Homo sapiens: one gene and its partners. The protein of the gene in region 3 purifies or fractionates together with the protein of the main gene of each other region. This does not show direct contact. Each region holds a gene or a part of one and is shown on either strand. Other genes may lie near its edges.

Region 1 (3,654 bases), on a different chromosome or scaffold from region 3:
ACTGAATCTTGGCCTCTGGGACTTTGCACCAGTGCACCGCACAGCACCCACCACACCATCTTCTCATCCTGGAGGCTGATGAGAGAAAAGATGTTTATCCCCTCACTTACTGACCCTTCTTGGAGTTTGAGAGGAACTTGTGTCTGGCATGGTACCAGCACTGTCACTTTGTACTTTTGTTTTCTTTTATTCTGTTAAGTTAGTAAAAATTCAGACATCTCAGAGGGGTGTGTGTGTGTGTGTGAGTGTGTGTATACACATATATATGTAAGTGAAAAAGGAAAGTTCCTTCTCTTCGTCCCTTTCCTGCTCTTCTCTCCTGAGAGAGAAGAGTTATTGTGCTTATGTAATAGATGAACTACTGCTGTATGTATCATTTTGTGACATAATAATCTGTTTTGGTTTTCCTTTCATATCAGCACAGAGAACTCTTTCTTTTTGATAGCTGCATAGCGTCCCACGGGATGTTTGCACCATAGCTGATTGAGTTTGACCCTGGTTGGTGGACTTTTAGATTTTTTCTAGTTTTTCCCCCATCAGACATGGCTGCAGTGAGAACCCCTTATTCCTGTGCAAGAATGAAGCAGAACAGATGAGTGGAATAGTAGAATGGATGTGTTTATGAAACAGTGATTGGGCTGGGCGCGGTGGCTCGCGCCTGTAATCCCAGCACTTTGAGAGGCCAAGGCAGGTGGATCACAAGGTCTGGAGTTCAAGACCAGCGTGGCCGATATGGTGAAACCCCACCTCTACTAAAAATACAGAAATTAGTCGGGCGTGGTGGTGGGCGCCTGTAGTCCCAGCTACTCGGGAGGCTGAGGCAGGAGAATCGCTTGTACCCGGGAAGCAGAAGTTGCAGTGAGCCGAGATCACACCACTGCACTCCAGCCTTGGTGACAGAGCGAGATGCCATCTCAAAAAAAATAAAAATAAAAAAAGAAACAGTGAATGACTCTGCCACATTGACCCACCAGTTTACTCTCCCATCAGCGGCACCTCTTTTACACACCTTTACTTGAACACTTAGTGCTAACAGACGGTGTGACTTCCCCTGTGAGATCCCTTAAGAGCTAGGCAGTGTCAGATTTTCCTGATGGACTCTGAATAACTTTTCTCTGAAGAGCTTAATACAGCTGCTCCTAGCAGAAGACCTGCCGTGCGACCCTGCTTGGTACCTGTGTGTTGAATGGCAGAGAAGGCAGCCCCCAGGGAGGTCCTGCCAGTAGTCACCATAAGTTTGGAGCAGGAAGGTGGCGGAGCTGCAGTCTGATAATGAGCAGGCATTTGCTAGGTGGGGGATTCTGAGAAGTAAGTAACGTGGTTTCTGCCCATCCGAAACTTCCAGGCTGGCAGAGGAAGCTTGTTTGTGCAGGGGACCGCAGAGCTGTAGATGTTCATGCACAGTTGATTGTGTGGCTCTGCCCCTGTTCTGTGGCAACTCTGAGAGGGGAAGCTTTTTGAGGATGGGAGGGACCTTTTAATGAGGGATCTGAACTGGAGATTTGTATAGGAGCAGCGACAGGGACCTGCAGTGAGTGCGGTGCCAGCAGAGAATGTGCGGAGCTGCCCCTGCCCACTTCAGCTTCCTGGGGGCCCATTCCTGCCAGCAGCTGCTGAAGCTTGGGAAGGAGGCCCTTAGGAGATGCAGGGCTAGATGGCACGAAACGGGGACTCTTCCCAGCTAGCTGGGACAGGAAGCAGCGAATTCAGAGAGGCATCAGCTCCTGGGAGGACTGAATTGCTGGGACTCCTCCGAAGCCTTTAGATGTCGCCTTGCTGGGAATAGCTGGAGGGGCGGAGAGGCAGTAGCTGCCAGGTATCAGAAGGTTTTGGGAGCGCATGCTCTGCGGCTCTGGCTAGAGGGAGTGGCAGTGGGTGGATATGGTGAGCGGCACTTCCAGATCCCCGACCGACCCTCAGGCCTACCTTGGCCCTCGCAGACCAGACAGCCCGTGGGGGCTGCTGGCGTTTGCAGCGAGGGAGAGACTGGCCACTGACGCTTCCCGTTTTTGGTGGGTTTCCACCTCCCTGAGATGCTCCAACCATGTCTTTCTGGTTCTCTTTCCAGAGGCACTGGGAAAGGGACAGCAAAGCAGAGTGGGCAGCTGAGACCCTCACATCCTCATTAGGAGGAGGGAGACCACAGCTCGATGAGGCAGCAGAGGGATGAAGGGGGAACCCAGCCAGTGACAGGTCTGGTTGGGATGCCCAACTCCACCTCCTGCCCCCACAGATAGACCACTACTGTGTCCACTGCCCCGGCCTAGTCCAAGCCACTACCGTTCTGTCCTGGGATTTCTGGGACTGCCCTCATCTGTGATGGGGGTCTCTGTGTCCAGCTCTGCCGCTCTCCTGCTCCCTCCCTCTAGTCTCCCTCCAGAACTCCCTCCAGTCAGTTCTCCATGTTTTAGCTGGAGCTGCCTTTATAACATGCGAATCGGTTACCTCTCTGTACTTAAAACCCTTCCATGGCTTCACTGAGCCTTTTACAGGTTCTGAAGCAGCCATCCTGGCCTTTTTTAGAGTTCCTTAAGCCCACCATGCAGCTCTTGTCTCCGTCCTCTGCCAGCAGGGCCCTTCCCTCCCCTGGCTAACTTCTCTTCAGCTTCAGGCCTTAGCTGAATTGTCGCCTCTTGTCCCTCTTCCCATAGCGTCCTTCGCTCCCGCAATGGGGTCCTAGTCACATTGCATGTGAGTTGCTGCTCATGCCTGTCTCCTGCATGGGACTGAGCCCTGTGGGTGCAGGAACCACATGGCTCCTCTGTTATTCCCCAGCGCCTTACTGGGGCACCTGATGTGTGTGGGCAGTCACCAAACAGTGGCAGGTATTGACCAAGGTGTAGGTTCCCGGCAGGCTGAACTGCCCCTGGGAGGTTGAGGGATCAATCACCAAACCCCAGGAGGGAAGGGAGGAGAGTGAGGAGGAAAGTCAGGACTTGTCTTCGGTGGTCGGTCTGCCTCTCCTCACACCTTCTCCAGTGATTCAGAGAGTAGATTTGGGGGACTGAGAAGATACACAAAGGACAGAAACTCATGCTTCAGAGATGCTGATGTCATATAAGTAGTTTCCCTGTCTGGCCTTGGATGTTTATATACATATGTGTTGGTAAAAAGTGTTAAAAAGGAAAAAAATTTCCCATTCTTGAAGCGGACAGATGAGTTTTCTTTTCTATAAGGTAACTGGTGACATGTATTTCTTTTTTTTTTTGAGACGAAGTCTGGCTCTGTCGCCCAGGCTGGAGTGCAGTGGCACGATCTTGGCCCACTGCAATCTCCACTTCCCAGGTTCAAGCGATTCTCCTGCCTCAGCCTCCCGAGTAGCTGGGACTACAGGTGTGTACCACCATGCCTGGCTAAGTTTTTTGTATTTTTAGTAGAGATGGGGTTTCACCATGTTGGCCAGGCTGGTCTTGAACTCCTGACCTCAAGTCATCTGCCCACCTCAGCCTCCCAAAGGGCTGGGATTACAGGCGTGAGCCACTGTGCCTGGCCAATCCACAGACATTTCTAGTTGATCTGGGGTCTCCAAGGGATCCTACCTCCCGTAAGGAACTGGGCCCATTTCGAAGTTGCGAACAATGGACAGGGAGAATAAAAATGATGAAAGAAGTAGAAGCTGGCATTTGTTAGCCTTTATTCTGTGCCAGGCCTTGA
Region 2 (3,654 bases), on a different chromosome or scaffold from region 3:
CTCTCAGTGTGTAATATTTTACGCATTCATGAACACATACTTATTCTAACTTCTGACTTTTAACCACATTTAATTAATTGATCATAATAATGGTATTTGGCCCTCTTAATGACCATTGCCAAGAGAGCTATGCTACCAGAAACAAATTAAAATGTTCCACTAGGGCCGGGCACGGTAGCTCACACCTGTAATCCCAGCACTTTGGGAGGCCAAGGCAGGTGGATCACCTGAGGTCAGAAATTCGAGACCAGCCTGGCCAACATGGTGAAACCCCGTCTCTACTAAAAATAAAAAAATTAGCTCAGCATGGTGGCGCGTGCCTGTTAACACCAGCTACTTGGGAAGCTGAGGCAGGAGAATCACTTGAACCCAGGAGGCAGAGGTTGTAGTAAGCCAAGATCGCACTATTGCACTCCAGCCTGGGCAACAAGGCTGAAACTCAGTCTCACTCCAGCAAAAAAAAAAATTAGCCGGACGTGGTGGCAGGAGCCCATATTCCCAGCTACTCAGGTGGCTGAGGCACAAGAATCGCTTGAACCGGGGAGGTGGAAGTTGCAGTGAGTAGAGATCGTGCCACCACACTCCAGCCTGGGTGACAGAGCAAGACTCTGTTCTCAAAAAAAAAAAAAAAAAAAAAAGGTTATATTATAAATAAAAATTGCACTTCCTGCCGGGCACGGTGGCTCACGCCTGTAATCGCAGCACTTTGGGAGGCCGAGGCGGGTGGATCACGAGGTCAGGAGTTCGAGATCAGCCTGGCCAATATGGTGAAACCCCGTCTCTACTAAAAATACAAAAAAAATTAGCTGGGTATGGTGGTTAACTACTCGGGAGGCTGAGGCAGAAGAATCCTTGAACCCAGGAAGCAGAGGTTGCAGTGAGCCAAGATCGCGCCACTGCACTCCAGCCTGGGCAACAGAGCAAGACTCCGTCTCAAAAAGAAAAAAAGAAAAGTAAAAAAAAAAAATCACACTTCCTATCCCACTGACAGTAACTTCATTGAAAACAGGAATTTCACAGGAAACTTCAAAACAGCACCATAAAAGTATAATGTTTTCCTAAAGCATTTTAGGAGCTTTATCCAAACATCAAAGAGATAAACATAAGTTAAATAATATTAAGTGGGATAACTGTTATTTCACATGTTTACATATTGTAACAATAGTCCAGATCATTTAAACTCACTTCAGCCATGTGAAACAACACACATGATGTTTCTACAGTGCTCTATGAAAGAAGTGTACATTTAATAAGATTTTCAAGATGTTTGGCCTGTACTATGAAACTTCTTTTTATAGAGACAGGGTATCACTCTGTCACTCAGGCTGTAGTGCAGTGGCTTGATCACAGCTCACTGCAGCCTGGAACTCCTAGGCTCAAGCGATTCTCCCACTTTGGCCTCCCAAAGCACTGGTATTATAGGCATGAGCCACTGCACCAGCCTGAAACTCTTGGTTTTAGTGTGATCACTTTTTTTTTTTTTTTTTTGAGATAGAGTCTCACTCTGTTGCCCAAGCTGGAGTGCAGTGGCACAATCTCGGCTCATTGCAATTTCCGCCTCCCGGGATCAAGAGATTCTTGTGCCTCAGACTCCCGAGTAGCTGAGATCACAGGCGCACATCACCATGCCTGGCTAAGTTTTTTGCATTTTAGTAGAGACGGAGTTTTGCCATCTTGATCCAGGCTGGTCTCAAACTCCTGGCCTTAAGTGATCTGCCCACCTCAGCCTCCCAAAGTGTTGGGATTACAGGTGTGAGCCACCGCACCCAGCCTATGGTGTGATAACTTTACTGATGGGCTAAGAAGCCACTCACTTGGTACCATTTCTATTCTGAGTCACAGGTGTTAGGTTTACACAGGTATTTCCTACATTTGAGGGATAGGTCATCTCTGCTAGAGATGTTTCCTCTGCAGCCAATAAAAACCCACATGCCAGAAATTAAGCTCACACAGTCAAGACTGAAATTCTATGTCTCTAGCCAAAGACTCACATAAGTAAACAGAATTTTAGTTCTATATGTAGACATCACAATGAGTAAGTACTGATATCATTTTTTTTTTTTTTGAGATGGAGTCTCGCTCTGTCGCTCAGGCTGGAGTGCAGTGGCACAATCTCGGCTCACTGCAAGCTCCGCCTCCCGGGTTCACGCCATTCTCCTGCCTCAGCCTCCTGAGTAACTGAGACTACAGGCGCCTGCAACCATGCCCGGCTAATTTTTTGTATTTTTATTAGAGATGGGGTTTTACCATGTTAGCCAGGATGGTCTGGATCTCGTGACCTCATGATCCACCCGCCTCAGCTTCCCAAAGTGCTGGGATTACAGGCGTGAGCCACCGTGTGCGGCTGATAACATTTTTTTCACTGAAAACCAGCAACAAAAAATCAAAGAAATCAATGAGTTATTCTTATCAAATCAGTTAAGTACTCATTAAACACTTGTGTGCTCAATTGGGGTTGAGAAAGCAAAGAGAGAAATGAATGCAGAATTCCTGTTTACAAATTAGCCAGGTCAGACATCCTTATAGAAAGAAACAACTAGGAAATGAGTATACATTCACGTCAAGCATCTTTTTTTTTTTTTTTTTTTTGAGACGGAGTCTGGCTCTGTCGCCCAGGCTGGAGTGCAGTGGCGCCATCTCGGCTCACTGCAAGTTCCACCTCCCAGGTTCACGCCATTCTCCTGCCTCAGCCTCCCGAGTAGCTGGGACTACAGGCGCCTGCCACCATGCCCAGCTAATTTTTTGTATTTTTAGTAGAGACAGGGTTTCACCGTGTTAGCCAGGATGGTCTTGATCTCCTGACCTCGTGATCCGCCTGCCTCAGCCTCCCAAAGTACTGGGATTACAGGCGTGAGCCACTGCGCCCGGCTATCTTTTTTTTTTTTTTGTAGAGATGCAGTCTTGCTATTTTGCCCAGGCTGGTCTCCAACCCCTGACCTCAAGCAATCCTCCCACTTTGGCCTCCCAAAGTGCGAGGATTACAGGCGTGAGCCACCATTTCAAACATCTAATAAGCAGAAAAAATTAAAATACAAGATAGCAGTAATTAGCTGGGCGTGGTGGCGCGCGCCTATCTATGGTCAGTCCCAGCTACTCAGAAGGCTGAGGCACACAAATCGCTTGAATCCAGGAGGCAGAGGTTGCAGTGGCCAAGATCATGCCACTGCACTCCAGCCCAGTCACAGATCAAGACTCCGTCTTAAAAAAAAAAAAAAGAAAAGAAAAGAAAAGAAAAAAGCAAATAATCAAGCACTACACTGAAAACATTTATCCTTATCAGCTACATAGCAGCCTGTGTGTAAGAGTTACATAAAATTCCATTTTAGGGCCGGGTGCAGTGGCTCATGTTTGTAATCCCAACACTTTGGGAGGCCGAGGCTAGAGAATCACTTGAGGCCAGGGGTTGGAGAGCACCCTGGGAAACATACAAGGATTCCATCTCTACAAAAAAATTTAGCCCAAGTGTGGTGGCTCACACCTGTAATCCCAGCACTTTGGAATGCCGAGGAGGGCGGATCACGAGGTCAGGAGATTGAGACCATCCTGGCTGACACAGTGAAACCACATCTCTACTAAAAATAGAAAAAATTAGCCAGGCATGGTGGCGGGCATCTGTAGTCCCAGCTATTCAGGAGGCTGAGGCAGGAGAATGGC
Region 3 (3,349 bases):
GGTTCAAGCAATTCTCCTGCCTCAGCCTCCTGAGTAGCTGGTATTACAGGCACCCACCACCATGCCCGGTTAATTTTTGTATTTTTAGTAGAGATAGGGTCTCACCATGTTGGCCAGGCTGGTCTCCAACTCCTGACCTCAGGTGATCCACCTGCCTCGGCCTCCCAAAGTGCTGAGATTACAGGTGTGAGCCATTGCACCCAGCCAAGACTGCAGTTTTAACTCAGTTGATTTGCATGCAGTTTTTTCTCTTTGGTAGCAGATTCCCATCCTTTTGATAGTAGATAGTCACTGGAAGCAGCCAAGAGTCACCAGATTTTGGTCAAGTGTAGTGATTAAAGTGAGAGATCAAGTAGGCAATACTAGTTTTGGTTGAAAGCCTCTGACTATAGGGCAACGTGAATGGTTTTCACATGTGACTCAAAGTGGCTCTAAAGGCAATAACAACAGGAATTCCAAAACCATTGTGGGCAATTGGTTCATCACCAAACCAAGCATATTACTTCCAAAAGAGTGAACTATGAAGGCGACAAACAGAGCTAGGTGATAATGCTTTCTCAGGATTCATAATGTTACACACATATCTCACTCATACACAGAAATTCTGAATGGTTGAGTCAATCAATTCATTTAATTAAAGTAGATTAAAGTTTAGGCTTACCTAAAACTTTAATATTTGCAATATTTTTTCAGTATGACATTCTCATAAAAACGTATTCACCACTCGAATGGTACTTCACATACATTATCTTTTTAATGTTCACACTACTACCACAAATATAAGTATTATTCTCCGCATGTTATAAATGAGAAAATGGAGACTCAGAGAAAATGTGATTTGCACAAGGCAACAACATCTGATAAAAGGTAGAACCAAGATGCCAATACAGATCTGTTTTGCTTCAAACACCACGTTCTTTTTATTCTCTAACCCTGCCATGTAGCACCTTTGAATAATTCTTAAATGTATCATTACAGGGTTGTTCAATTTTTAGCTGCAATGCTTAATATTTCTTAATGACTCTATTATTACCAGTGAATAATCCTATTCTTTATTTAACGTGGAAGTGAACTGAACAAAACTGAAGGTATTGCTTATGAACAGACTTATTTCTATTCTTGAGGAAAACTGGAAGTAACTACAAAAAGCCATTTATTCCACTTGAATGAAGTAAATATTGATACTAGACCTTACATTTAAAGAGACCAGTCTAGCAAGTGACTCTCATTTTAACAATAACCATATTAAAAGAGAAAAAAATAAAGCAGTAAGTTAAATAAAAGGTTAATAAAACTTGGAGGAAACAGCTCAGTGTTTTCTTTTAAACCCTGAAGAATACCAAATGTATGTTATGTTGCATAAAGAGTCATGTCAAGAGAAGACTATTAACAACCCAATAGTAGAGTCAGCATTAAGAACTTCAATGATATTCAACTCAAACATGCGTAGGGAGAGTAAAGTTATTTTATTAAATCATGCACGTCACGTGTGTTAGTGCAAATAGTTTAATCTGTACTCCAGAAATTCTATTGTACTTTATATCTTTACAAAATAGATTTAAAACAATTATTTACTTTAAAAAATGTAATTCTGAAGTTAAGCATTTCAGAACAATATTTGCAATAACCTATATACAAGAGGTACTGGGTACCACTGGCATATTAGCATTCTGTGGTGGAGTGGCTTCCTGCAACAGAAAATGATGAAATGAACTATATGACAGTATTTTCTACAAGTCATTTGTGACTAATTCCTCCATAAATCTAGTGATCTTCCCAAAAGCAATCTCAAATAGCTTAAAATATAACCTTTAAAGTATAAACAGTGACTGCCAAACATCACAAGGCAAATTATACCCTAAACTCCTATTTCAATATTTGGCTAGACCTGTGGATTGCCACAGAACATTCAAGCCAATTCACTGACATTCCCTCCCGGTCTTCACTGACTGAAAAATTTAACTATGTGATACTTTAGGATATTCTATGACCTAAATAAACTTTATTGACATAACTATGATGCCGCACAAAACCATGGCTAAACTTTCACTTGTGTTTTAAATTTATAATATCAAGCAGTGTTTTTAGGTGCTTCATTGTGCATAGAACACTATTAATCTTGGGAATAGTGCTTTTCATTAACAGAAAGTCCCAATTAACAACAATAAAAAGAAAATAACCATTTGCATACCCAACCAGGAAATTTGTTGGTAGGTACAACGCTCACCCTGAACATGAATTAGCTCTGACACATCATAAACCAAATTAGGTCAATACAAGCTTATCTAAAGAGATATTAATACTTTCTTCAATTAAACATGCTTGGAGGAATAGATGATAGAAAAAAAAAATCATGCTTCCTAAAATGCTGTATATGAGAAAGTAACTTGGCTTTTAAAGAAAAATATCTCTTTAAATACATGGTTTAATAAATTACATTCCAATTGACTCAACATTTTGGTTGACTGCACTGAAATTGTGTAATTACTATGTTTTTGCTCCCAGAAATACTTCAGTTTGCTCAAGAAAATACACTCTCATGGAAAGTTTTTCAAAGTTGATGTCCTCCACATCTTCAAGTCACATTAAGGCTGAACAAGCGTGCACATATTCCCCAAATTATCACCATAACAGTTTATTTTCCAAACGTATTTTTCCTTAAAAAAAAAAAAATCCACGCAAATAGTTGTCTCTAAGTCTTGTTCCCAATAGCTCAGTGGTTTCATAACAAGTAAAAATGGCGTAAATATGTAAAAAATATATATATGTGTATATATTTCAAACTGATAGGCACTGAGCACACAGGGCCTCTCTTCCCATGTATGTATTGGTTGTTTGGTTTGGGTAGTTATCAAATCAGAAAAATGAATTATCTGGTGATCAGAATTCAGAGTAAAATACTCATAAATTTAATGTTATAAATAATCTGGTGTACCAAGAAGCCTACTTTAGGCCACCATAATATTCAGAATCTTAACATACTAATTTAAAAATTACATGAAAAATTGCAAGCAAATTATTGCTTACAGTAGAATAAAGTCACAATTTTATATCTTCTTTATAGACAGATACATTTTATATAATTTAAAGCAATGACCCTACAGCTGTATTCTTGTACTTCTGCTGTTTTAAGAGGTAAAGAGGAAGAAAATGGTTCTGTTTGTCCCCAGCATGAGTGTGATGCCAGCTTCTAGAGGGAGGACGGTGTACGGACTCAAGGAACGCTCTCATGGAGAAGCTCTGGCCAGACCTGGCACGTACAGCACGATGGCTGTTACTGCAACCAGGGCAGCCAACATGGGCATCCAGGGCCAGGGTTTCTGTGTGGAAAGAAACCAAGAGTCAATAT

Evidence for each region.
Region 1: the proteins of SLMAP (region 3) and STRN4 purify together in Homo sapiens (affinity purification with mass spectrometry; 2 studies listed by BioGRID and IntAct, with this or other methods). This does not show direct contact.
Region 2: the proteins of SLMAP (region 3) and RABGEF1 purify together in Homo sapiens (affinity purification with mass spectrometry; 3 studies listed by BioGRID and IntAct, with this or other methods). This does not show direct contact.

The regions. Positions count from the first base shown.
Region 1 is NC_000019.10:46,739,843-46,743,496, reverse strand, and holds part of STRN4 (striatin-4), read left to right. Parts: intron 1-3,654. UniProt on the Homo sapiens protein: Calmodulin-binding scaffolding protein which is the center of the striatin-interacting phosphatase and kinase (STRIPAK) complexes.
Region 2 is NC_000007.14:66,743,603-66,747,256, reverse strand, and holds part of RABGEF1 (rab5 GDP/GTP exchange factor), read right to left. Parts: intron 1-3,654. UniProt on the Homo sapiens protein: Rab effector protein acting as linker between gamma-adaptin, RAB4A or RAB5A. Involved in endocytic membrane fusion and membrane trafficking of recycling endosomes. Stimulates nucleotide exchange on RAB5A. Can act as a ubiquitin ligase.
Region 3 is NC_000003.12:57,927,267-57,930,615, reverse strand, and holds the end of SLMAP (sarcolemmal membrane-associated protein), read right to left. Parts: intron 3,321-3,349; coding exon of another isoform or gene 3,228-3,320; 3' UTR 613-3,227; downstream 1-612. UniProt on the Homo sapiens protein: Associates with the striatin-interacting phosphatase and kinase (STRIPAK) core complex, forming the extended (SIKE1:SLMAP)STRIPAK complex.